Homo sapiens: one gene and its partners. The protein of the gene in region 3 purifies or fractionates together with the protein of the main gene of each other region. This does not show direct contact. Each region holds a gene or a part of one and is shown on either strand. Other genes may lie near its edges. The genes, in order: GLYR1, PRDM10, PRDM5 and CCDC77.

What was found.
Region 1: the proteins of PRDM5 (region 3) and GLYR1 purify together in Homo sapiens (affinity purification with mass spectrometry; 2 studies listed by BioGRID and IntAct, with this or other methods). This does not show direct contact.
Region 2: the proteins of PRDM5 (region 3) and PRDM10 purify together in Homo sapiens (affinity purification with mass spectrometry; 2 studies listed by BioGRID and IntAct, with this or other methods). This does not show direct contact.
Region 4: the proteins of PRDM5 (region 3) and CCDC77 purify together in Homo sapiens (affinity purification with mass spectrometry; 2 studies listed by BioGRID and IntAct, with this or other methods). This does not show direct contact.

Annotation. Positions count from the first base shown.
Region 1 is NC_000016.10:4,837,272-4,844,298, reverse strand, and holds part of GLYR1 (cytokine-like nuclear factor N-PAC), read left to right. Parts: intron 1-696; exon of another isoform or gene 697-895; intron 896-2,908; exon of another isoform or gene 2,909-4,047; intron 4,048-4,619; exon of another isoform or gene 4,620-5,056; intron 5,057-7,027. UniProt on the Homo sapiens protein: Cytokine-like nuclear factor with chromatin gene reader activity involved in chromatin modification and regulation of gene expression. Acts as a nucleosome-destabilizing factor that is recruited to genes during transcriptional activation.
Region 2 is NC_000011.10:129,908,829-129,915,855, forward strand, and holds part of PRDM10 (PR domain zinc finger protein 10), read right to left. Parts: coding exon 6,832-7,027; intron 6,191-6,831; coding exon 5,876-6,190; intron 3,398-5,875; coding exon 3,257-3,397; intron 1,829-3,256; coding exon 1,648-1,828; intron 1-1,647.
Region 3 is NC_000004.12:120,814,703-120,821,729, forward strand, and holds part of PRDM5 (PR domain zinc finger protein 5), read right to left. Parts: intron 6,644-7,027; coding exon 6,469-6,643; intron 3,826-6,468; coding exon 3,651-3,825; intron 2,223-3,650; coding exon 2,130-2,222; intron 2,118-2,129; exon of another isoform or gene 1,922-2,117; intron 1,873-1,921; coding exon 1,751-1,872; intron 1-1,750. UniProt on the Homo sapiens protein: Sequence-specific DNA-binding transcription factor. Represses transcription at least in part by recruitment of the histone methyltransferase EHMT2/G9A and histone deacetylases such as HDAC1.
Region 4 is NC_000012.12:411,627-418,653, reverse strand, and holds part of CCDC77 (coiled-coil domain-containing protein 77), read right to left. Parts: intron 6,908-7,027; coding exon 6,676-6,907; intron 161-6,675; coding exon 18-160; intron 1-17.

The DNA of each region.
Region 1 (7,027 bases), on a different chromosome or scaffold from region 3:
TAAGTTGGGGAAACCAGGACCATTAATCTGAGACTCTGACCATATAACATGTTACAGTGACGGGAAGAACGTGAAGAACCTGTATTAACTTGAGTTGCTAGTGATTTGTTTAGCTTTTTATCACTATGTCAAGTGGCTTACCTGGGTCTAGCTAGATGGTTTGATTTTTTTTTTTTTTTTTTTTTGAGATGGAGTTTCACTCTGTCACCCAGGCTGGAGTGCAGTGGCATGATCTCAGCTCACTGCAACCTCCACCTCTCGGGTACAAGTGATTCTGGTGCCTGAGCCTCCCGAGTAGCTGGGACTACAGGCGCACACCACCACACCCGGCTAATTGTTTTATATTTTTTAGTAGAGACGGGGTTTCACCATGTTGGCCAGGCTGGTCTCAAACTCCTGACCTCAAGTCATCTGCCCCTCCCCCCCCCAACCCCCTCAGCCTCCCAAAGTGCTGGGATTACAGGCAAGAGCCACCATGCCCAGCCGGTTTGATTTCTTTAAGTAGTTGTATTTCTATTTATTATTCTTATAGGAAAATACAGCCTTAGATTTGAAAAAAATGTCTGTGGCTTCTCTGGTAAATCTAATTCTGACGGTTAAAGTATTTCTACTTAGAAAGCGATATATTATAAACAGTATTCTTCACTCATCCAGGAGTTTATATGTCAGATGCTCTTCCTGGTTTCATGTTTACAGATAGACCCAGCCCCATTTCTCTATCACAAGCCAGCTTAGCAGCCTGTGGTGGCAGTATTTCAAGGAGATCGCTGGCCTGGAGCTGTGGAGCCAGAGCTTCTGGAAGAGGGAATGTTCTTAGAACTCCATGGATTTAAAAAGAAGATTTGGCCGGGCATGGTGCCTCAGGCCTGCAATCCCAGTACTTTGGGAGGCCAAGGTGGGTGGATCACTGGAGGTCATGAGTTCGAGACCATCCTGGCCAACATGGCAAAACCCCGTCTCTACAAAAAATACAAAAATTAGCCAGGAGTGTTGGCGTCTACCTGTAATCCCAGCTACTTGGGAGGCTGAGGCTCGAGAATTGCCTGAACCCAGGAGGCAGAGATTGTTCGAGACCCTGCACTCCAGCATGGGTGACAGACTGAGACTATGTCTCAGAAAAGAAAAAGAAAAACAGGAAAGATTGTCCTCATGCATAACATCAGTGTTATGTGTCCACTTTCTGAATTGCTTGACACTGAGGGAATTTATAAGAAAGCAAGTATTATAGTTCCCACCTTCCAGATGCTCAGTCAAGTGACAAGTTGTAAACATTTCAGATAAGATGATGTGCACAATGATGGTCGGGCATGGTGGCTCATGCCTGTAACCCCAGCACTTTGGGAGGCCGGGGCAGGCAGATTGCTTAACGCCAGGAATTTGAGAACAGCCTGGCCAACATGGTGAAACCCTGTCTCTACTAAAAATACAAAAATTAGTCGGGTGTGGTGGTGCACACCTATAATCCCAGCTACTCAGGAAGCTGAGGCAGTAGAATTGGTTGAACCTGGGATGCGGAGGTTGCAGTGAGCTGAGATCGCGCCACTGCACTCCAGTCTGGGTGACAGAGCGAGACTCTGTCTCAAAAAATAAATAAAGATTATGTGCAGAATGAATGATGGCAGATAATTGTTAATTCTAGGCTGGGCACAGTGGCTCATGCCTGTAATCCCAGCACTTTGGGAGGCCAAGACAGGAGGATTGCTTGAGCCCAGGAGCCGGAGACCAGCCTGGACAACATAGCAAGACCTTGTCTCTACTTAAAAAAATAAATTTTTTTTTTCAATAGCCAGGCATGGTGGCACACAAGTGTAGTCCCAGGTATGCAGAAGGCTAAGGCAGGAGGATTGCTTGAGCCCAGGAGGTCAAAACTGCAGTGAGCCATGATCACAATATTGCACTCCAGTCTGGGTGACAGAGCTAGACCCTGTCTTAAAAAGAAAAAGAATTCTAGAAGAGGGAGAGCTCAGTGGAGAGCCATGAGAACCAAGAAGACTGACTGAAGAGATGGGATTTGTTTTTCTGTTTGTTTTTTTTTGTTGTTGTTTTTTTTTTTTTGAAACGGAGTCTCGCTCTGTCGCCCAGGCTGGAGTGCAGTGGCGCGATCTTGGCTCACTACAAGCTCCACCTCCCGGGTTCATGCCATTCTCCTGCCTCAGCCTCCCGAGTAGCTGGGACTACAGGCGCACACCACCATGCCCAGCTAATTTTTGTTGTATTTTTCAGTAGAGGCAGGGTTTCACCATGTTAGCCAAGATGGTCTTGATCTCCTGACCTCGTGATCTGCCCGCCTCGGCCTCCCAAAGTGCTGGGATTACAGGCGTGAGCCATCGCACTCAGCCAGAGATGGGATTTGAATCCAGCTCTGGAAGATACATAGAATCTGGATGGATGGGGACTATAGGGGCATTTCAGACAGTGGGGATACCATGAACAATTGGCATTAAGCTGGGTGTTATGGAAAGGAAGAGGCTCCCTGCCTGAGGTAACTTGTGCTTAGGAATAACAGAGGCAATATGGTTGGCCCAAACTTCATTAGCTAAATGAATAATTACACAAGTCTGAAACAAAAATGGGAACTCAGTCTCATAAGGAGCCTGAAAGCCATTGTTTCCTTATGTTTTTTGTTGTTGTTGTTGTTGTTGTTGTTCTTGTTTGGTTTCTTGATTTTTTTTTGAGAAAGGGTTGGAGTGCAGTATCACGGACATGGCTTACTGCATCCTTGACTTCCCAGGCTCAGGTAATCCTCCCACCTCAGCAGTCCGAGTAGCTGGGACCACAGTTGTGTGCCACCATGCCCTGCTAAATTTTTTACTTTTTTTTTTTTTTTTTTTTTTTTTTTTTGTAGAGACAAGTTCTCGCCATGTTTCCCAGGCTGGTCGCAAACTCCTGGGCTCAAGTGATCCTCCCACCTCGGCCTCCCGAAGTACTGGCATTATGGGCATGAGCCACAGCGCCGAGCCCCGATTTTTTTTTTAATGCTAAAAGACTAGATTAATAAACTGTGATCCTTGTTTATAACAAGTGCTAGAAATAGGACACAGAAAATTGGAGTTGAGTTAATTTCAGAGCTTAACCAGGCAAACAGGTGAAGCCAGTGGTGATGTGCTTGCTCAAGACAAAAATAGCCTGGATGGTGGTGGTGATGATATAATTTCTAACTGACGAAGGTTCTTTGGAGGGTTGTAAACAAGTGGGATACAAAGCAACTGCTAAATGCAATATTTTTAACTTTTTAAACTCCTTTGCTAGAGTTCTACATTTTAAACTATAAAAATGAAGTCACTGTGGTACTAATGTGTTATCTTTTTGTGGGTAGGCAGTTAACTTAGAGAAAGGAAATAAAGGGTAAAGATGTACAGTACTTCTCTAAAGAAGGAACACTTCCTTAGTGATCAGTGCTGGGGCAGATTTTATTTTGTGTTTTTCTATGAAGGTAAGATCTCCAGATTGGCTGGTGGCAGCAGATTACTTTGGGGAAAGAGCTCTGGATTGGTTACCAGCCTAATGTGCATTCAGGTACCGGTTCCACCTTGCTCCCTGATTTGGGCAAGCTATTTCACCTTTCTGAGCCTCTGTGTCCTCTACATAAGGGGATGATACCCCCTACCTCATAGTTAGGAAGGAAAAGTAGTATCTCTTGTGTAGAGTGTGGCTTGCCATACAGCAGGTATTAGCACACATTGGTCCAGGATGCCTTTAAGTATGGAAAACTGAGAGAGATGGAGACTCTCCCTATGGGAGAGAGAGAGAGTGTGTGTGTGTGTGTTTGTTTGAAAAGAAAGGAATATGAGAGTTGGAAGTTCCTAAAGGATGTCAGCCAGGTTTGCTCTTTTTACCAAAAAGGCTTTGAGTACAAAACCATGCATCATTCCACCTTTATGTAAAACTGTATGCGCCTCATCAGGAATACTCTATGGACTTCAGATCATGCTTTCAAAGGGATCTCTTAGAATTGGCCAAGATCCAGAAAAGGGAACTGAGTCAGACAAAAGAGCAGGACTCTTCAATGTGGAAAAGCAAAGACTGAAGGAATCACGGGATCAGGAGGTAGGAAACAGCGAATGGCCTAGAGGAGTTTGGCGATGGGCACTGCAAGTGGATTGTGGTATGACTGTGTTAGGACCAGGGTGAGGAGCACTGCATAAAAGGGGCGTTTAAGAGGTGGTGTAAACAGGTATTGCAAGGGGATTTTTTAGGGATGAGAACTAACTTGTGAAGACAAAGCCATAAGTGGCTCCTGTAGAAGCTGGACTGCACCTCGCCTTTAACACTTGACATCAGGGAGGGGGCATGTGGTCCAGGCACATCCTGGGTGGGGGCACCATTGGTTACTGGACCCTGGCCCAGGTGGATAGGGTCTGACCCAGTGGAGTGTCCTCCGTTCCTGAGAAATACAGGATTTGGTCAAAGATGTTCAGTTTCAAAATTGACACACTACTTAGGCAAAAAAAAGTGTAGTTATACTTTTTTAATATTTGCAAGGTCTTTTATTAAAGAGCAGAAAGAACGGCTCCTTATGACAAGATAATCAGTGATTACAATCTTTTAGAAACCTGATTTTTCTCTCTCCACATCTCTGCCAAAATATCTAACAAATTGTGTTGACATCCCACTGTTAGGAGAGGGCCAGACCTTCCTAATCAGGTGTCCTGGTGAGAGGAGGACTTCTTTATACGGATTCGGCTCCCTGAGCGAGATGGCCAAGACAAAACTGCCCACGTAATTTTTGTATTTTCATGGAAATACGAAGGGGATATAATTTCAGCAAAACCCTGCCAGCTTCACTTGGTGACTACAACCAAAGATTATGTGTCAAGTGCACGAGGGTCCCTCTCTGACAGGTCTGATTAGTGGTGACCCCCCCATCAGAGTAGAGACAGAGCTCACGGTTTAAAAGTTTCATCGGGGCCAGGCGTGATGGCTCACACCCGTAATCCCAACACTTCAAGAGGCAGAGGCAGAAGCATCACTCAAGCCTAAGAGTTCAAGGCCAGCCTGGGTAACATGGCAAGACCCATCTCTACAAAAAATTTAAAAATAAAAAATTTAAAGCTACCATGCCGGCTTGTTCTCACCTTTATACTCTATGCTTGTGTGTGTGTTTGTGTGTGTGTGTGTGCTTTTTCTCTGTCTGTCTCCCTCCCCCTGCCATCTTCTCCCCGCCCTTTCTCCTTTTCTCTTTCTCTTAGCTTCACGGCTTCAGCCCAGGTCACCTGTCTATCCGAAGGCTGAAACACAGGTGAGAGGGTTCATGCGTAGTAGCATGTACCTGTAGTCTCAGCTACTTGGGAGACTGAAGCAGAAGGATCGCTTGAGCCTGGGAGGTCAAGGCTACAGTGAACTGTGATTGAGGCACTGTATTCCAGCCTGGGTGACAGAGCAGGACCCTGTCTTTTAAAAAAGAAGAGTTTTGGCCAGGCACGGTGGCTCACATCTGTAATCCCAGAACTTTCAAAGGGCAAGTCAGGCGGATCACGAGGTCAGGAGATCAAGACCATGCTGGCTAACATGGTGAAACCCCGTCTCTCCTAAAAATACAAAAAAATTAGCTGGGCGTGGTGGCGGGCACCTGTAGTCCCAGCTACTCGGGTGGCTGAGGCAGGAGAATGGCGTGAACCCCAGAGGCAGAGCTTGCCGTAAGTCGAGATCGCGCCACTGCACTCCAGCCTGGGCAACAGAGTGAGACTCTGTCTCAAAAAAAAAAAAAGAAAAGTTTCATCAGTGGCTGTGGATGATGATGGAATGGAGGGAGTGTTCATTTAAATTACAGGTGCTTAGAAGCCACCAGAAACCAACCGGTTCAACAGATTGTGGACAAACAGTGGAGAAGCTGCAAGTGCCTACCTGCGAGTTTCCATAGCAGTCTTCCCCTCCAGTCCTCACAGCAGCCCTTTCAGGAAGTGCACAGGGTCATCTTTCTGGTTCTTATTTTTTCACAGATGAGGAAACTGAGAGACCAGTGGTCCTTTTCCACCAAGCCACATCTAAGGTGGACCGGTCTCGCTGGATGTGAGGTGTCTGAGTCAGTACTGAAAGTAGCTGCTCTAGAAGAATATGTGGTTAATAATTAGAAGCATAGCAGCTTGGAAGCATCCCTTTTTCGTTTCACCTGGCACCTGATTTGTGTGTGTTTTTTTCTGGTGCCTTTATTTCTGAAGAACTTGGCCTGTAACACCTCAGTAATCTTCAGCCCCTTTGGATGGATTTTTTTTAAAAAGGCACCCATAGAAATTGTTTACTAAGTATTCACCAAATCCAAATGGAGAAGCAAACCCACACCTTCTGGCCCCATCTTTGTTCTCACCTGTATTTTTATTCTTATCTTTATTTATTTATTTATTTATTTATTTATTTATTTATTTATTTTTTGAGATGGAGTCTCGCTCTGTCGCCAGGCTGGAATGCAGTGGCACGATCTTGGCTCACTGCAACCTCCGCCTCCTGGGTTCAAGCGATTATCCTGCCTCAGCCTCCGGAGTAGCTGGGATTACAGGCGCATGCCACCGCACCTAGCTAATTTTGTATTTTTAGTAGAGACAGGGTTTCACCGTGTTGGCCAGGGTGGTCTCAATCTCTTGACCTCGGCCTCCCAAAGTGCTAGGATTATAGGCGTGAGCTACCGTGCCGGCTTGTTCTCACCTTTATACTCTATGCTTGTGTGTGTGTGCTTTTTCTCTGTCTGTCTCCCTCCCCCTGCCATCTTCTCCCCGTCCTTTCTCCTTTTCTCTTTCTCTTAGCTTCACGGCTTCACCCCGGGTCACCTGTCTATGTGAAGGCTGAAACACATGTGACAGCGTTCAAGATTAGTCATAGGCTGACATCTTTAATATACAGTATCTACATGTATGATTTTCTTTTTTTTTTTTTAAAGACCAAGTCTTGCTCTGTCGCCCATGCTGGAGTGCAGTAGCACGATCTGCACTCACTACAACCTCCACCTCCCGGGTTCAAGCAGTTCCTGCCGCAGCCTCCTAAGTAGCTGGGATTACAGACGTGTGCTACCACAACTGGCTAATTTTTGTGTTTT
Region 2 (7,027 bases), on a different chromosome or scaffold from region 3:
TGATCTTTCTGCCTCAGCCTCCTGAGTAGCTGAGATTACAGGCATCCGCCACCAGACGTGGCTAATTTTTTTTGTGTTTTTAATAGAGATGGGGTTTCACCATGTTGGCCAGGCTGGTCTCAAACTCCTGACCTCAAGTGATCCGCCCACCTCGGCCTCCCAAAGTGCTAGGATTGCAGGCATGAGCCACCACGCCTGGCCCGCTCCACTCTCTTTCACAGGAATTACACTGAGTACAGAGGTCAGTCTATTCACCAGATTCTAGTGGTAAGAGAGTCCCTGACTGGAAACTAGACCCAGCCCTCAATGTGACGTCCAATGTTTAAGAGTATAGTTTGTGGCCGGGCACAGTGGCTCATGCCTGTAATTCCAGCACTTTGAGAGGCTGAAGTGGGCGGATCACCTGAGGTCCGGAGTTCGAGATCAGCCTGGCAAACATGGTGAAACCCCGTCTCTACTAAAAATACAAAAATTAGCTGGGCGTGGTGGCGGGTGCCTGTAATCCCAGCTACTCAAGAGGCTGAGGCAGGAGAATCACTTGAACCCGGGAGGCGGAGGTTGCAGTGAGCCGCGATTGTGCCACTGCACTCCAGCCTGGGTGACAGAGCGAGACCCCATCTCAAAAAAAAAAAAAGAATATTGATTGTAAAAATAACTAGACGGTAGAGTTTGAGCCTGACTCCATAGCAAATCTATGTAACATAGCCAAGGATCAATCATGACAAAGACGGGCCCCCAAAAATAAATCAACAGTAGAAGAAAGATCAATACCGACCCTTTCCCTTCTCAGCACCTCTTCCTCCTAGTTTCTACTACTGAGGTCTGTTAAAGTCTACTCCTATTCCTTCCACACCTTCCATGAGAAAGGTCTCATACTTCCTGGCCTGCCCCAAAGCTGTTTCCCCACCAAGGGGTTTACCTGCCCCGACCTCTGTCAGCCAGCCTGCTACTGTTTCCACAGCACGAATCTCAGGGCTTTGGAATCAACGACTCTTCTATCTCCCTCCTTTACTAGATGATGGTCAGCTGCACAGTGGGGTGGTTTAGAGTGGACACTCTGAAGCCAAACTGCCTGGGTTCCAATCCTCTGTTTACTAGCTCTTGGAAAAGTGAGTGTGTGGAAATTGCCTTATCTGTAAAATGCAAATAACAATTGTACTTATCTTATAGGTTGTTGTGAATACTGACTGTGATATATATGGTTCGGAATCATTCCTGGCAATGTAGTAAGAGCTTAATGAAAGCTGGTTAACATTATTATTGTGTGGTGTTACCGATACTAATGAGAATATTAATCTTGGCATAGCCAGTGTCTAGTACAGCGATTGATAGACAGGCATTCTACAAATATTGGTGGAAGGGATGACTCAACATAAGCTATATCCAACTATCTTACTATTTAATTTCATAGCTACATTTCCTCCAGCAATATACCTGACGTTTCGAAAATGTCCTATCAGGGTAGCTCTGTGAAAGCGGAATGCTACACCTTGAGTTTTGTCATGAAACCCATTGAAGTACATTCATAGAGAGTGTAAACAATGGCCAAGAGATACTTTAAAAATCTATCACAAGCTGAAGAAATTATGACACATGGCTGGAGATCCCCCACCCCTGACCGACACGGCATCGTCCCTTCTTACTTACAATAGCCACGGAAGGAATTCCAAGCACTGGGCAGGTACGTGTGCTGCACAGAGGAATTCTGCTGCTGCTGCTGCTGCTGCTGCAGAGCCTGCCCCTGTGTGGAAGAACTGCCCTGGATGTGGGAGGGGCTGAGCCCCTGCTGAGCCTGCTGGGCTGAGGGACTCAACGGCTGCCCAGATACCTGGGGAGAAAGAGAAAGCAATGGTAGGGAATTACGAGCTTCTAATATAGTGAAGACTCACAAATAACTGAAGGAAGTACACCAGACTCATATGAATTATAATACTGAAACTATCGTTGCTATTTTTTTTTTCTTTTGAGATGGAGTTTCACTCTTATTGCCCAGGCTGGAGTGCAACGGCATGATCTCGGCTCACCGCAACCTCCGCCTCCTGAGTTCAAGTGATTCTCCTGCCTCAGCCTCGCGAGTAGCTAGGATTACAGGCATGTGCCAACCCACCCAGCTAATTTTGTATTTTTAGTAGAGAAGGGGTTTCTCCAGGTTGGTCAGGCTGGTCTCGAACTCCCGACCTCAGGTGATCCACCCGCCTCGGCCTCCCAAAGTGCTGGGATTACAGGCATGAGACACAACGCCTGGCCTATCATTGCTATTATTAAAAGTAATATTTTAAATAAGAATAAACTCAATGAAAAGCAAGCATAACTATGAAATTCTAATTTGCTTTCAAAGGATTCTCTACCAGAGTATGCAAAAAAATTAATTTCAATCAACTGTTGGAAAGATAAATGAAAGAAAATATAATTACCTACATTCTATAAGTTTAAAAATAATGGGAGGTGAAGTAACTTGCCTGTGTCACAAAGCTAATCTGGAACACAAAATGAAATGAAACCCAAAGTTCATCGTTTCCATTCACCAGTACTGGCAAATCCCACCTGGCTGGTGGAGTTCAGCACAGGTGGGTGAAGAGGCCCACTCCTGATAACAGGATGAGGCCAGCGCTCTCCAGCCTGCCACACTGCAATCCTGCTCCAAACTACCCTCCCAACTTCCTTTCCAAACATCATTTCCTGTGAGTAATCTAAACAGAATAACCCTGTTTTCTATAAATGTACATTTTCCATTGCAGCATGAGCTTCTTCAGATCAGACTGCCTTCCCCAACGACTATGTCAGAACTGTACCCCTCCTTCAAGACCTCAAAGACCACTTCTTCTAAAAAATGTCCTGGATTCCCTCCTAAACCTAATCTCTCCCTCTCTGAACTCTGAGAACTTATCTATGTATCTCAATTCCAGACTCAAGCATACAAACACAGTAACATAAAATATACCATAATACTCCAGAAAGCCACTGTTCCAAATCATAGAAGCCACTTAGCCATTGCATTTAGAATGAAAGCAAAGACCACTGTTGTTTCTAGGATGTCGTACCACAGGACTCTATGAGGGCAGAAGCAGCTAACAGCTTAATATGTGTCCACAATGCCAATATAAAAATTGGAGGCAAAGGTAAGATCCTTTAATAAAAATCCAAAAATAACAGTAGCTGAGGAGACTAGGTCTGAAGAGAATGTCTTCCCTCTCATTAACTCTGATAATCCCTGAAGCCATGATAACACCTCCAAATAGTCTGTGGAGCAGGGTACCTGGGCGGAGGACGGGGCCGAGGCGGTAGGCTCGCTGACCTGGATGTGCTGCACCTGGATGGCGTGCTGGGGGTAGGGCTGAGGATCATGGAGCTGGCCAACATCCACAGTGGACTGCTGTGACTGGTGAGGGGAAGTGGCCTGGAAGGAGAAAAAACAGGCCCAGAAACCAGACATATATTGATTGAAGTTAAGGGAAATCCTTCCAGAGAAAAGGTTCAGTTAAAAACAATATCCTGGCCGGGTGCAGTGGCTCATGCCTATAAACCCAGCAGTTTGGGAGGCCAAAGCGGGTGTATCGCTTGAGCCCAGGAGTTCGAGACCAGCCTGGGCAACATGGCAAAACCCTGTCTCTACAAAAAATACAAAAATTAGTCAGGTGAATGGCCGGGCGCCGTGGCTCACGCCTGTAATCCCAGCACTTTGGGAGGCCAAGGCGGGTGGATCACGAGGTCAGGAGATCGAGACCGTCCTGGCTAACATGGTGAAACCCCGTCTCTACTGAAAATACAAAAAAATTAGCTGGGTGTGGCGGCAGGCACCTGTAGTCCCAGCTACTAGGGAGGCTGAGGCAGGAGAATGGCGTGAACCTGGGAGGCGGAGCTTGCAGTGAGCTGGGATTGCACCACTGCACTCCAGCCTGGGCGACAGAGCGAGACTCCATCTCGAAAAAAAAAAAAAAATTAGTCAGGCAGCAGGGTGCAGTGGCTCACCCCTGTAATCCCAGCACTTTGGGAGGCTGAGGCGGGGGGATCACTTGAGGTCAGGAGTTCAAGACAAGCCTGACCAATGTGGTGAAACCCTGTCTCCACTAAAAATACAAAAATTAGCTGGGTGTGGTGGCGAGCACCTGTAATCCCAGCTACTCAGGAGGCTAAGGCAGAAGAATCACTTGAACCTGGGAGGCAGAGGTTGCAGTGAGCTGAATTCGTGCCACTGGACTCTAGCCCGGGCAACAGAGCGAGACTCCATCTCAAAAAAAAAAAATAGCCAGGCATGGTGGCATGCCTGTAATCCGAGCTACTGATGAGGCTGAGGTGGGAGGAATATCTGAGCCTGGGAGGCGGAGGTTGCAGTGAGCCATGATTGTGCCACTGCACTCCAGCCTGGGTGACAATAGTGAGACCCTGTCTCCAAAAAAAAAAAAAAAAAAAAACCAAAAACAATATCCCAATATATGCCAACAGAAATAGAAGAATGGAAGGGATTTCAGCTCCAATGCTGCACTCGCAGATAGCCCACACCTAGAACACGCCATACAACAGGATAAAAAAAGAGCGTTTAGAGAAATATGCTTCTCACACATAAGCCACTATTAGATTCTGGAAGAGAAGGAGAGAGAGGGAAGATAGTTCCTGACAATAAGCTGAAAAAGAAGTTGTCAGGAATCAAAAATTTCAGTTACATTTAATGATCTACCCTTTATCAATTAAAAGAGATCAAAGAAATTCGTTTTTAGTTTGTCACCATTAACCCACTATGACAGTGGTTCTTAACCTTTTATATATCATAAACATCTTTGAAAAAGTAGCTAAAGTACAGGCCCTTTTTCTAGAACAATGTACCTATACATCATAATTTACAGGCAACTTCAGGGACTCATATAGCTTCCTCCAAAGCCTGAAGTTAAAAACCCTCCATAAGAAAAACAAGACAAAGAATAGTCAACGACAGTGGCAACTTCCAATTTCCTGTCCCCATGTTAGTTTTAAATTTTCAGAGACCAAATGATTTCAAAGCAACAAGTTTGTTCATTTGTGCCTTGGGGACACTTCTCCTCAGTGTAATTAAATGAAACAATAGTTCTGGGAGAATCACTTTCATTTAGTTCCTTAGTCAATAAGAATGAGTTATTCATTATCTGGTAGAAGGAACACAGTTATACCTCTATACTACAAAGGCACTGACTGATATGCAGAGATTGACTCAATTTTTTTTTTTGAGTCCTGTTCTGTCGCCCAGGCTGGAGTGCAATGGTGTGATCTCAGCTCACTGCAACCTCCGCCTCCCAGGTTCAAGCAATTCTCCTGCCCCAGCTTCCTGAGTAGCTGGGATTACAGGCATCCGCCACCATGCCCAGCTAATTTTTGTATTTTTAGTAGAGACGAGATTTTGCCATGTTGGCCAGGCTGGTCTCGAACTCCTGACCTCAAGTGATCTGCCCGCCTCAGCCTCCCAAAAGTGCTGGGATTACAGGCATGAGCCACTGCGCCCAGCCATCAATATTATGCTTTATGACCTCTCTTTGATATAAGACATTTGATACGCAGGTCGTGATTTATCAAACTGGCTCATTACCAAGCAGCCAACCAGGATGGTTAAAGATAAGGATCAGAAGAGGGTCAGAAACAGGTGCTGTGGCTACTGTCCTGCCACAGCACAGGAGGCTTGTATATGCTGGAACCTAAAATTTCCTGACTACTATAGACAGAAATCTCTTACATTGCTAAGGCCAGAGGCCTCATCAGCCTGAAAGGGGAAGGGGCAGTTGTAAAATGCCCAAGGCTCAGAACTTCCACGCAGAAGGACATTACATAGATCCCAGCCCCAGCTCTGAGAATGAGGTGCTAGTGGCAACACGGCATTCATAAGGCAAAGGGAAACCAAGGCACGCAGTACCGAGGCCACTTGAACCACTTGCAGCTGTATGTGCTGAGGCTGCTGGAGGCCAGACGCCGACTGCGACACAGGGATGTACTGAATTCTCTGGTAATCCCCTTGTGGCGTTCGGTAGTCTGTCGTTAAGGTCTGGGACAGTTCTGTCATTGCTTGGGTGAGCAGGTCCGTCGTCACCACAGTCTCTCCAGTGGCGCTGTCTGTAGTCAAAACCGCTGGGGTGGCACTGATCACAGCTGTCGTCAGTGGTGTGTGTATGGTGTTGGAGAGCTGGGCGAACTCTGGATGCTTCTTTCGAATGTGCTGGACCATCTTGGTCTGAAAAAGCAAGGCAAAAAACAAGAATAATTATTAGAATTTGTGATTTTCCGTTTTTCTCATATGTAAATCCTCCAAAGATTCCTAAAGTCTTTTATGTCTTAAAAAAAGAAAAATCAGAGCAACACTGACTCTATGCCTGTACTTCCTGGGGTAACATAATGCTATGAAAGCAGGGAAGAGGGTGGGGAAGAAGTAAAACCTCACCTGACCTCACACCATCAGCAAGGTCTCAATACCCCCCCCAAATAGTACCTGCAGCAATCAATCACAATCCCCCCAGCCAAAATGACCTCCTTTGTAAAGCCACCACGTAACTTTCTATGTGGTGCTTCCAAAAGCCTGAACTCACCAACTGCAAGCACAGAACATTCAAACGTGAGGCCCTCCGCAGGCCAAGGGAAAAGGAAAACAGCCAGCTGCTCGGGCTGCTGTACGGCACTAATTCTGGGGAGGTCCACAGTATCCTCTTTCCATTCTCTGCTGTGCTCTCTGTTTACAGTGACTAGGACAACATCTCTTTCAGTCCCCCGTCAACTCAGAAGGAGCCATCCAGGCCATGTGGATGAGAAGCCACCTTTCCTTAAGAGATTCCTCGCATGGCGGTTTTGACCTTAGCTTTAGTCAGAAACTCCCCCTACCTTGCTGCTGTACTGCTTGGAGCAGTGGGGACAGCAGACGGGAGGGGTGGCGATGGTGCCCGTCAGCTGGGTGTGTGTGCTCAGCATGGGGTCTGGCTCTCCAGGACCAGCGGGTCGGAGCTTCCGAATGCTCGGTGGGAGCTCTGCTCCTGGGTGGTTCTTCAGAATGTGGGCTTTGCGCTTGCTGGCACTTTTA
Region 3 (7,027 bases):
GCTATCTCCAATAGGGAATATTCTTTCCTCCAATGCCTGTGCAGCCCATGGAGGAAAGGGGAGAAGCAAGAGACATACTGTGAATGAGAGAATGACATCATGTACCAACCCCAGCAAAACATATGGCATAGTAACCGTTAGCTAAAATACAGCAAGATTTTACACTTTATATGGTCCACAAATTAAAAAATATATATAAAACAAGATTTCCTTTTATGAATTATTTCCTACAAAATCACCATAAATTTCCAGAATTAATAATATTACAATATGCAAGGCCAACTACAAGAAGCCTCAAAGACATTGTGCTTATAGCACAGCCTGAAGACAACATGCCCAGTAATAAGAATGCAAGTCTCCAGAGTTTCGTATGCATCTGGTTTTTTACTTAGTTCAGCAAACTTAAGCTTTAAAACTGACATGAAAGTTCTATTACAATATATTGCAGACATAGATGAAGAAAATTAAGAATAGCATTTTAACTAGAACAGCATTGAAAATCAAAAAACTACGAAGGCAAGTCTATCAAAAAGTTATGCTTGCCTTTTGCAATCATAGGGAAGACCCCAGTATACTGAATTCAGAAAAAAATCCATCTTCCCTAAGTCAGCTGTGTATTCTTCAAAAGGAAAGAAAGAAACCAGAACACTGTAAAAGCCTAGTGAAGGGCACCAAGCTGGAGGTGCATTTCACAAGGCCCTACTTCCACCACACAGAGCTTTCACCATAGGTTGCACTTAATATGCAGCCCAAACCAATGATGCAAAGTCGCAGCTAGCAGTTGTTCACGCTAGCCTCTATAACTGTATTATTATTAAAGTGAATACTTTTTGGACAATGAACAAATACAGGATACAGATGCTGGGTGCAGATTATCATCTTCTCCTGAATATAAGAATAAACAACTGAAGGGAGAAAAGAAATCCACTTTCCCCCACATCCAGAGACACATAGCCACCCATTTCCCAGAAGTCAAGGGCAAAAATAAACACATGAACAAAGAATATGAAGAGAAGAACACACAGGGTTTCATAAATCTCAACCTCCTTTAAGGAGGAAGTCTTTGGAGGTAAAAAGACAAGAAGTAAAAAGTTAACTGAGACAATACAGCCATCTGTTCAACTCACTGCAATAGATTTAATCCCTAAGCCAAAATATATTTACTGACAGTATACCATGTGCTAAGCAGATAAACCCAAAAGACAGTCAAATTTTATATTTGTTTTATTGTTTAGCTAGCTATCAGATGGAATTCAAATAATATTTGTTTTGTTAATCCATACATATTCAATTCCAATGTCAAAATGTGTTAGCAATTTTCTCTAACTTAGGAGAACTGTATTTTCACAAGTTGGATTTTTACTGTAAAAATAATAAGGCAGAAGGACATCACTTAATAATGATAAATTTTAACAATTTATAAAAGAAATGTCACATGCCAAAACATTTAAAATTGTTACTTAAAAATATTAATTCTTAATGCATCTGACCACCCAAACATAACTAGACTTTAACTAAGGCTTACAGTTATAATTAATTCAGGAATGGGAAAAAGAACAAATGCTGCTAAATTCAACCTGAGAAAGAAATAGTGTTCAGTGAAAGAAAAAAATCCACTGCCAGCGCTCCACATCTGTGTGAAACACAATGGAAAAGCCAGCTCTCTCCTCAAGAGCGAGAATTAAAAACAGATCGCTGCAGCCTGGGGAAAGGAAGCCCCTTCGGAAACGACCCTCCAACGACTCCTCACCAGTGTGGACATTTTCCTGGTGTCTTTTCAGGGCATCCTTGCTCTTCAGCCTCTTTCCACAGCTGTCAGCCTTGCACACAAACCTGGCATCCCCCCGGCAAGTCTCCTGGTGCTGCTCAAAACTACAAGACAACCAGCAAAGCGGAACAGGAAGAAATGGTGAAGACATACCTACAAAACTCAAACATCAGCAAGATTTTGTAATACATGCTCCCTAGTAGAGTTTCGGGGTCATTCCATGCATTACCTATGCAGGTAAGAAGAAAAGCATTTAAATTCTGTAGGTATGTGAAACTGAATTACTAAGAAGCATGAAAGTATGCATGCAAAAAATGACCCACAATTATATAACAGCCATTTCATAACTCAGACACAAAACCTCGATGCTGAACTGAAGGAAGAATTGCAAACAGAGCACTGAAAACTTCGCGAAGACTCCTTTAGACTGCTTTTCGCTGTGCACTGAAGAACACTAAAGGGAAATAGGAAAAAGAGAAAGAAAAGAAAACAAAAACTGGAACTCTAAGACAAAAATGAAACTACACTAACTCTGAATAAAGTCATGTTCGTGATCCCTTTTTTCATTGTCTTTTGCCTTTTTAAATTTTTAGCAGTACCTTAACTATAAGCTCTTGCTCAGCAGTGTCTTTTGTATAAATATATAATACTAAATGCAATAAAAGCTAACCAGAATGCAACTTAACATCTATTTATTTAAAAGCATATAGTCCTTGCTTGTTTTTTAAGGAAGTACAATAGAATTTCTAAATATGTAGTATCCTGCTATTATAAAAGTTTTGATATTCTGAACATTTATTAAGTTTTAAGCACAATTTTCATCTCAATTTTTATAAGCAAAAGTTGATGCATATAATAATATTCATACAGTCTTAGTATGAAATGTAGCATATTTCAGAATTTTAGTTCAATGAAACACAAAAATGTAAAAATGTAACATTAAAGCCTATGTTAAAGATTTCTTGCTCATAAGTAAGGTAACATTCTGTTAAAATGAGAAGCTAAGGTTGGAGAAAGAAAGTAAATGGCAGGATGGGAGCACATAAGAGAAGAGATATGTTGATGAGATGGGACAATTTACATTACTTTCATATTGGAAGTAATTGGCTTCAACACAATGAGAGTCTACAGTTGCATCCAATATGTAAATATGCTTTTAAATTACTTAAATTCAATTATCTGATTAAAATTACAAACTTTAATGAGTAAAAAAATAAAACTTTACAAATGCATATACCTACTTTCTCACTTTTAACAATTTCTGATCCTGTAAAATATTTAAATAAAGATAATTTTATGTTGTTAATATAAATTGTTAAAATAAAAAAGGGTACAGAGCTATGTGTGGGATCATCTAATTAATCATATTGTTATAACTGGGACCTATGCATCTTTAAATTATTCCTCCAAAGTTGCTCTCAAATAAACAGTGCTTCCCAAAATGTCCAGGAATTCTTTATACTTTGAACTCCCCATTTCTTAAACTTTTTTTTAAACAGATTCCAGAAGGAATATAAAACGTAGACAACTAAAAGTCTGTTACCTCAAAGGAGTAACTAAAGTAGGCATATCTGAATTTCAGATTAAACCAGTAAGCTTGATACATAATGGCAAATTAATAAATGGACAAAAACTAATTACCATAAACAGTGTTTATGTGTTAAAATCCATAATTTGAATATTTTAATAATCAACATACTATACTAAGAAAAGATGAGTTAATGACAATACCAATGTAAAATGCTTAATCTCTCATTCACACACAAAACATGCGCGTGCGCGCGTGCACACACACACACACAGGTTAAAAACTATGAGTTAAGCTGAATGGAATAAACTGTGTTAGCTTATAATTTTAAAGATATTTCTTTAATATACGCACTGTCTTTGCAAAGCCTGCTTAACTGGGAATTTCTTCCCACAGTTCTTGCACTTAAATTCTTTCTCCTCTGTGGGTTTCTGGTGCAATGTCTGGAGATGCTCAGCAAGAATATCCTCACTGGTAAAACTCGATTCACATTGAGGACAAGCATAGTCCTCTTTACAGCCAAGGCGATCTGCACATTCACAAGGAAACATATTCATGAGACAAAAATTCAGAGCCAAGAAATGCTCAGTTTTGCTCTCATTTTAAATTAATTAATTAATTGTGCTTAATGATACCATATGAATAAATTCTTATTATCACTATAAATATTAATAGTATTTGGCCACAAAAAAATAATAGCAAGTGTTACTAGAGAGAAATACATTATTTTCAAAATCACTTGTATTTCACCAAATTAATACAAAGTCAAATTCCTTATTTAATTCATCCTATAATGTTAACTTTTCAGATCAAAATGTTAAATTAGAAAACAAAAGCTATTCCTGAAATTGGTCATTTTTAGCTCATTTTTACCTTCACAAGGAGAAAAATCCAACTGATGCAAACTATATTGAATTACCAAGGAGAATCTCACATACATGTGAAAAAAGACCAAGGTCATAAAAACAGTGCTGATTAAGCTAGTAGAGTGAATTATGCTACACGGTCCCATATAGACTGGTGCAGGTCTGACCAAATTTCTCAGCGTGCTATTTAAATTACACATTTGTTTCTGATTATAAAATAAAATTAGACTTAGAAAATGCAGAAAATAAAAAACACCAATAATCCCATCAGGAAGAGACAACTGTCATAATATTACTGGCAAGCCTGACTTGCCTTTAGTGCATACATATTTTATGCGCAGTCTAAGAAGAGGTAAATTTGGGATCATACTTTATATACAATTTTATATGTTTTCCCATTTAACATCTTCTCAAGTCAAATGTTGGCATATTTTTAAACTTAAAGTACCACAATTTATTTAACCAAACTCTTCATTGTTAGACATTTGGGTGGCTTGTTTCTTTTGCTGTTTGTTTTTATTTTGTTTCTTTGCTTTTCTAAATAAAACTAAGAATTCTAAAATAAAAATAGCCATGGCACATGGCACATGGCACATGTATACATATGTAACAAACCTGCACATTGTGCACATGTACCCTAAAACTTAAAGTATAATAATAATAAAATAAAATTTTAAAAAAACCAAAATAGCCACAATGCAAGTGCTTGGTTCATGTGTTTAAAAAATTCTGTTTAAGTTTCTGTTGATTCTTTTTACAAAGATAATGAAAACTGGTATTTTAATAACTAAAGCAGAAATCAGGGCAGTAATAGGTAAGTAGATTACTTATTTTTAAATTAAAATAATGGATAAAATAACTTGCCCTGGGGACAACAGGGAAAAAATAAAATACAAAAACAAAGAAAACACAGAATAACACAGAAATAATTCCCATCACCCAAAATATGATATTCCAAATAGCATAATGCATATAAGCCTGTCCTTATCTTCCCCTTAAATAATTCAACTAAAATAAAGAAACAGAAGCATAAGCTGGCAATGGTGACAGAATGTTCACACTTTCTCAGCCAATAACATGCAGTTAGAACAGAAAAAGTACAGGAAAAGCATACTACCACTTTGACTAATGAAACCAGTATCACTTCTGAAGTGGCTTTGCTACACAAAATGGAAAAGTACTGTATAGTAAGTATCAGCCTGCTATGGTCTGAATGTTCGTGAATCCCCAAAATTCATACGTTGAAACTGAAACCGCAATGGAATTGTATTAAGAGGTGGGCCCTTTAGGAGATGATTAGGTTATGAGCACTGTGTCCTCATGTATGGGCTTAATGCCCTTGTAAAAGAAGCCCAAGAGAGCTTGCTTGTCCCTTCTGTCACATGAGGACACAGCTAGAAGGTGCTATCTAATTAGAAACGGGCCCTCACCAGACACCAAATCTGCTGGCACCTTGATAGACTTCCTAGGCTCCAGAAACGTAAGCAATAAATTTCTGCTGCTTACCAAGTATCTAGTCTAAAGTATTTTGTTATAACAGCCTGAAAGGATAAAGACGAGGCCTATTACAAAATGTGAATACCTATAGCATCATTCATATATCCCTTAAATTTCCCTTAGGAGTAAAACACAACATAATAGAAACAAGGCCAATAATAATTGATTATTCCCTGGCAGTTAACAAGCAAGTGGCTGCAGTATTGACTGAGGAAGGTCTGACCTACGGTCACTGAAAGTTTTTGGTAACCACACTAGGGCAACCTAGCAATCCTCCAGGCTTCTGTGATCAGAACAGAAAGAGATGCCAAGAAGCTGCAGGTTCCCAAAAGATCCCAAACAAGAGGAATCAATCCCCTTCGGATCCAGCAGGCTCTCTTGTGTACCTCACCTCCACTCTCACCTTTTCCTATATGCAGATGAGAAAGTAAAGTCTCAGAAAGTCAGCAACTTGCCCAACGTTACAAGACTGATTAGTGGCAGAGCTATGGCAAGACTATAAAAATCCTCACTACTCATTACCCCAATGCGCCAGTGAGAGCAGTGAGAGCCGGGAGCTGCCCTAGCAATGCAGCCCTGCCTGCGGCCTAGGCAGTCCTATAGGGTACATCCATCACCCACTCCCAAAATACTTTTCCTGCTGTAACAAAGATGAGTCCACCACAGGATACCCTCGAGAATAATTTTGACAAAAACTAACTTTATTTGAGAATGCCATATTACAAGGCAACTATAATTCAACCACAGTTTAAACTACACTTTTTTCTACAACTTTTCTTCTCCCAGATCACCAATTAAAGATGCAATACCTTTTCTGCCCGCTGTTGATTGTCTTCTAGAATTTTCAACTTCCCCTTCTTTGATGACTGTCATAATTTGCTGTTCTTCCTCCTCAGCCTCCATGTCACTATCCAGGTAGCCAATCAGAAGCTCCGTGTCTGTTTCTATATCTTCAACTGCCAAATAGAAAATGTTTTCTCCTTCCTGAAACAAATTTTTTTAAATGCTGAACCATTCATTTGTTTCTGATAGTAATTAAGAAATAATTTTAAGATACATTAATGGAGTACTATGTGTGCATGAAAAGTTATTACTTTTTTTTATTTCTAGTTGATCTGGGTGCTGAAAAAGGCAGGTGACAATATTCAGTTACCTGGCAAATAAAATACAAATACATATGACAAAAAGTGACATTTACACATGTCAAATGAAATTATGTTCAATTTTTAAAGTGAATTTTGCATCACTAACTGGCCTTATGCAAGCAACACTTTGTGGTGGCCTATAAATGTAGTTGTCATGCAACAGTGTCATTCACACATGCAGACAGAGAGCAATGAGATATCAATGATTTCGTTATTATTAACA
Region 4 (7,027 bases), on a different chromosome or scaffold from region 3:
CTTCTCCTATTTGGTACCTGATTCTCAGTCGGTCATTTTCTGAGTAGAGGCGTAAAACATGTTCCCGTTCCTGGAAGAGGCAGACCTGCATATCACTTAGAGCTTTCTGCAATTCAGCAATCTCTTCCTCCCTCTGCTGCAAATCACATTCAAGTTTATGCTGCAAAAAAACCACAATAAGATAGTTGAAAGACACTGGGTTTCAATGGAGTATCTCTCACTGGATAGGGAGGAGTCTACTCATGTAGAAATATTCCAAAGTAAATAATTTTGCCAATACAGAATTCAAATGACAGCAATAGGCATGTATAGACTGGAGTTTGTTTGTTTTTTTATTTATTGAGACCAAGTCTTGCTCTGTTGCCCAGGCTGTAGTGCAGTGGCACGATCTCAGCTCACTGCAACCTCCACCTTCTAGGTGATTCTTGTGCCTCAGCCTCCCGAGTAGCTGAGATTACAGGTGCATGCCACCATGCCCGGCTAATTTTTGTATTTTTAGTAGAGATGGGGTTTCGCCATGTTGGGCAGGCTAGTCTCAAACTCCTGACCTCAAGTGATCCACCCGCCTCAGTCTCCCAAAGTACTGGGATTATAGGCACGAGCCACCATGCCCAGCCTTGACTGGAGTTTAACAGCTACAGGATGAGTGTGAAGTTTGCATTTAACATCAAAGCTCTCACATCTTCCTTTTACAGACTATAGAATCCAGAATGCTGTACGACTCACCTATTCTATCCACACTTTTTTTTTTTGAGACAGAGTCTCACTCTGTCGCCCAGGCTGGAATGCGGTGGCATGATCTTAGCTCACTGCAACCTCCACCTCCCAGGTTCAAGTGATTCTTCTGTCTCAGCCTCCTGAGTAGCTGGGATTACAGGTGTGCACCACGCCCAGCTAATTTTAGTAGAGACGGGGTTTCACCATTTTGGCCAGGCTGGCTTGAACTCCTGAGCTCAGGCAATCCACCCACCTTGGCCTCCCAAAGTGCTGGGATTACAGGCGTGAGCCACCACACCTAGCCTATCCACACTTTTTTAGTAATGTTTCCTATATCATAAGCATTATTATGACATGCAGGAAAACAAAGATGAAAAGATACGATTCCTGTCTACAGAGCTACGGAATTTCATGGGGAGAGAGGCAAATGATTAAAATAAAATAATTACTTCATGAAAGCATGCATGGTGAAATGGTGTGGGGGAAAGCGTGGCAGGAATAAACATTCTGAGATCTGTTTGGGAAATCAAAGCGCTACCACCCAAGAGCTGACACTTGACAGATGAACAGAAGATGGGTAGAGAGAGAAGCAGACAGTTGGTACTCCAAGAAAAGAGAACTGTAAATAAGAACCATGAGAGAGCCTGATGTTGTCAGAAAGGAAGACAATCTCATCACATGCTACAACACAGACGAAACTTGAGGACATTATGCTAAGTGAAATAAGTCAGTTACAAAAAGAAAAACTACAGTATGATTCCACTCTATTCTAAATAAATCCTGCTCTATTTTTTTTTTTTTTTTGAGACAGAGCCTTGCTCTGTCGTCCAGGCTGGAATGCAGTGGTGTGATCTCAGCTCACTGCAACCTCCACCTCCTTGGCGATTCTTCTGCCTCAGCCTCCTAAGTAGCTGGGACTACAGGTATGTGCCACCACGCCTAGCTAATTTTTGTATTTTTAATAGAGACAGGTTTTGCCATGTTGGTCAGGCTGGTCTCGAACTCCTGACCCCAGGTGATCCGCCGGCCTCGAACTCCTGACCCCAGGTGATCCGCCGGCCTCGGCCTCCCAAAGTGCTGGGATTACAGGCACGAGCCACCATGCCTGACAAATCCTGCTCTATTTCTAATTCATAGAAATAGCAAGTAAAATAGTGGTTACAGGGAGTGTGGGGAGAAATGATCTGTTTAATGGGATGGAGTTTTGGTTTTGTAAAATGAAAACGTTCTAGAGATCAGTCACACAACAATGTGAATATACTTAACACGCCAGGCGTGGCAGATCACTTGAGGCCACGAGTTCAAGACCAGCCTGACCAACATGGCAAAACCCCATCTCTACCAAAAAAACAAAAATCAGCTGAGTGTGGTGGCGCACCCTATAATCCCAGCTACTTGGGAGGCTGAGGCAGGACAATTGCTTAAACCCAGGAAGCGGAGGTTGCAGGGAGCTGAGATGGCACCACTGCACTCTAGCCTGGGTGAAAGAGCCAGACTGCCTCCAAAAAAAAAAAAAAGAAATATATATATATATATATATATATATATATATATATATACACACACACACACACACACACACACACACACACCCCCACACACCCACAGACTCACACACACACACACACATAAACACTTAACACTACTCAACTGAACACTTAAAATTGGGCAAGGTCATTAAAAATAATTTCATAAAGGCTGGGCACAGTGACTCACGCCCGTAATCCCAACACTTTGGGAGGTTAAAGTGGGAGGATGGCTTGAGCCCAGGAGTTCAAGACCATCCTAGACAACAGAGCGAGATTCTGTCTTTACAAAAAATAAAAAATTGGGCAGGGTGCAGTGGCTCACACCTGTAATCTCAGCACCTTGGGAGGCCGAGCCAGATGGGTCATCTGTGGTCAGGCGTTCAAGACCACCCTGGCCAACATGGTGAAATCCAGTCCCTACTAAAAGTACAAAAATTAGCCGGGCATGGTGGTGGGCGCCTATAATCCCAGCTACTCAGGAGGCTGAGGCAGGAGAATTGCTTGAACCTGGGAGGCGGAGGTTGTAGTGAGCCGAGATTGTGCCACTGCACTCCAGCCTGGGTGACAAGAGCAAGACTTCATCTCAAAATAAAATAAAAAATAAAAAATTAGCTGGGCATGGTGATACATGCCTGTAGTCCCAGCTACTTGGGAGGCTGAGGCAGGCGGATTGCTTGAGTCCAGGACGTTGAGGCTGCAGTGAGCTATGATCGCACCACTGCACTCCAGCCTGGGCAACAGGGCAAGACCCTAACTCAAAAAACAAAAAACAAAAAACCCAGAGGTCTATAGATACATACATAATGTGATAAAAATATTTATTACATTTTTATTAACATATTATTATGTTAATAATATCAACATATTATTATGTTAATAATTATGTTAATATTAACATATTATGTTAATAATTATGTTAATAATATCAACATATTATTATGTTAATAATTATGTTAATATTAACATATTATTATGTTAATTATGTTAATAATATCAACATATTATGTTGATTATATTAACATAATATTATGTTGATTATATTAACATAATATTATGTTGATTATATTAACATAATATTATGTTGATTATATTAACATAATATTATGTTGATTATATTAACATAATATTATGTTAATAATTATGTTAATAAATATTAACAACTGATTCAGAGAAAGGGAGAGCATACAAGTCCACAGTGGAACTCAAAAGGTTGGAAACACTTTTTTTGTAGAATCTACAAAAACAATTAGGCTGGGCACGGTGGCTCACACTGTGTCCCAGTAAATGTATTCAGAGATGCTGCATCACTGCCATCTGGCAACCAGCTCCCATCCTGAAGCTATCCAGGAGCCCAAATGGAATGAATTACCCTGTAATTCATTGTATACATACATAATGTGATAAAAATGACAAGTAAACCTCCAAAAAACAAAAGCCTATTAAATTTGGACAAGTACAAATATTTCAGTACTGCTAGAGTGAAAAGTGTGAGGCCAACTGGGGATGTAAGAGGCCAGAGGCAGGTACTGGCAAGGAGGACACCGTCACAGTTTAGACGCAACTCAAGGGTCTGTGTGAGCATCGTGGCCAAAGTGAGGTGGGTGTGGGAATGGATTAAGTAATATTTAGGAAGCAGAATCAACAGGACTTGCCAAATGATTCGGTTTAGGGGGACTGGAAGAACCGTAGGCAATGATGCCATTTGCCAAGACAAAGAATAAAGAAAAAGTTAAGGCATGAGAAACGGAGGAAGGCGAAATGGTGGCAGTACATGTGCGGGTGGGGAAGGGAGGGTAGAGAAAGGAGCCTCAGGAGAAAAGTGAGTCAGGGTTAGTTATTTAACAGTCATCATCCCGTATGCAGAAGTGTAATACAAGGATAAAACAAGGTCATTTATAGTAGAATCTGGAAGAACTCTGAAATTTAAGAGTAAGGAAAGAGAGTTGTTAATGGACACTGAGATGAGCTGATCAGAGAGGTTAGATAGAAATTGTGAAAGAAAAATGACACAGAAATCAAGAAAGGAGGCCAGGCTCACGCCTGTAATCCCAGCACTTCAGGAGGCCAAGGCAAGCGGATCACAAGGTCAGGAGTTTGAGATGAGCTTGGCCAACATGGTGAAAACCCACCTCTACTAAAAATACAAAAATTAGTTAGGTGTGGTGGTGGGCACCTATAATCCCAGCTATTTGGGAGGCTGAGGTAGGAGAATCGTTTGAACCCGGGAGACAGGGGTTGCAGTGAGCCGAGATTGTGCCATTGCACTCCAGCCTGGCAGACAGGGTGAGACTCCGTCTCAAAAAAAAAAAAAAGGAAATCAAGAAAGGAAGAAAATTTTAGAAAAAGAGAGGTCAAAAGTGACAGACACTGCAAAGGGCAAAAAGAGAAAAGTTTGGTAAACAGGTATTTGGAGACCGCAGACGGCACGGTTTTAGTGGCATGGCAAGGACCGAGATGAAACTGCAGTCAAGACATTTCCCAGCTGGGCGCGGTGGCTCACGCCTGTAATCCCAGCACTTTGGAAGGCCGAGGCAGGCAGGTTGCCTGAACTCAGGTGTTTGAGACCAGCCTGGGCAACACAGTGAAACCCTGCCTCTACTAAAATACAAAAAATTAGCCAGGTGTGGTGGCGTGCACCTGTAATCCCAGCTACTCGGGAGGCTGAGGCAGGAGAATTGCTTGAACCCAGGAGGCAGAGCTTGCAGTGAGCTGAGGTTGCGTCACTGCACTCCAGCCTGGGCGACAGAGCGAGACTCCGTCTCAAAAAAAAAAAAAAAAAAATCCCATTCAGTGAATGGGAAAGTCAAAAGATTCTGGAAGTGTGACTGGGAAAAGAAAGAGCCATTTATATAAAAAGAGTAGCTAGAGAGGCCGGGCGCAGTGGCTCATGCCTGAAATCCCAGCACTTTAGGAGGCCGAGGCGGGTGGATCACGAGGTCAGGCGATCGAGACCATCCTGGCTAACACGGTGAAACCCTGTCTCTACTAAAAAAATACAAAAAAATTAGCTGGGCATGGTGGCAGGCACCAGTAGTCCCAGCTACTCGGGAGGCTGAGGCAGGAGAATGGCGTGAACCCGGGAGGCGGAGCTTGCAGTGAGCTGAGATCGCGCCACTGCACTCCAGCCTGGGCGACAGAGTAAGACGCTGTCTCAAAAAAACAAAAAAACAGGCCGGGCACGGTTGCTCACTCCTGTAATCCCAGCACTTTGGGAGGCCGAGGTGGGCAGATCACGAGGTCAGGAGATTGAGACCATCCTGGCTAACACGGTGAAACCCCGTCTCTACTAAAAGTACAAAAAATTAGCCAGGCATGGTTGCGGGCGCCTGCAGTCCCAGCTACTCGGGAGGCTGAGGCAGGAGAATGGCATGAACCCGGGAGGCGGAGCTTGTGGTGAGCTGAGATCGCGCCACTGCACTCCAGCCTGGGCGACAGAGCGAGACTCCGTCTCAAAAAAAAAAAGAAAAGCAACCAGAGAAAAAACAAAGGAAGGAAGAAGGAGATAGATACGGATGGAGTAACGGTGTGCAGATGGCAGAAAAGATGTTGAGAGAGGAGGGCTAAGAAGGGGTTGCAGGCTAGAGGTGAGGGTATGGCACAGATGTGGAAGGAGAGGAAAGCCAGTAAGGATAGGTGAGAAGACTGCTGTATAATGGTTGAGGGTACAGCTGAATTTGTTTACCATCGATTCATTCTGTACTGATTTGTGACCTTTCTACAACAGTGTTCTCAATCAGGAGTGACTCTGCACATCCATACACCCATTCCAGAAACATCTGGCAATGTCTGGAGAGATTCTTGATTGTCACAGCTGGGGGTGTTGTGTTACTGGCATCCAGCGGGTAGAGGCCAGGGATCCTGCTAAACATCCCATCACGCACAGGACAACCCCTCACAACAAAGAATCATCCAGGCCAAAATGTCAATAATGCCGAGGTTAAGAAATCCTGCTATAGGAGAACACGTGGCAGAGAACTGGATGATGCCACAGCTCAGTTTTTGCTATGCAGGTGGAGCAGAAGAATAATTGAGCAAGGGGTCATTTGCAGGCACTGCAGTTACTACTCAAGTAAAGCATCATGGGGTTTAGGTTTGAAGGACTTGATATCAGAGCTATATACAGCACTCAGAAAACTGAAAAGTCAGGAAGCTATGGAGGTAACAAAGAAGTTAAGGACTACTCAGGTACAAGGAGATGAAAGAACTAGGTATAAGAGATATGGAGATGTCAGAATTTAAGATTTGAGAGGAAGGGCAGTTTTGGGGGTTATGATCCAAGGAGGGCCTGAAGGGGCAATAGCTGGGCTGGGGAATAAAAAAGGAGTATTTTTATAAAACATCTGCTTCTGATATAAACTGGCACTTGTAGGGCATCTCTAATTTATGAAGACTCCATCAGAGTTCTAAAGCAGCAGCATCGTTTCTTTACCTGTCCTTCACAAGCTTCTTTGTAGAGTTCCAGTTTCTTCAGCAAGTCCTCATTTTCTGCCTCACACTCAGCCATCTTCTTTTGATAATATTCCAGGAGCTCCTTAGAAGGATGGAGTTTGGCCAGACGATCTTCGGGGGAAGGCAAGGGGGTTGACTCCAGTGAATCTGCCATTCCCCTCCTCTTGGTGGGACCACTGACGGCAACACCACGTTTGGAGACAACTGTTCGCCTACGTGAAATTAGAAATGATATATTCATCACACTCTGCGAAAGTTTATGAGTTATAACTTCCTAAATAAAAGGGGGTTTTGTGTTCCCAAAGTGCTTATAATTAAGGTGCTCATAAATT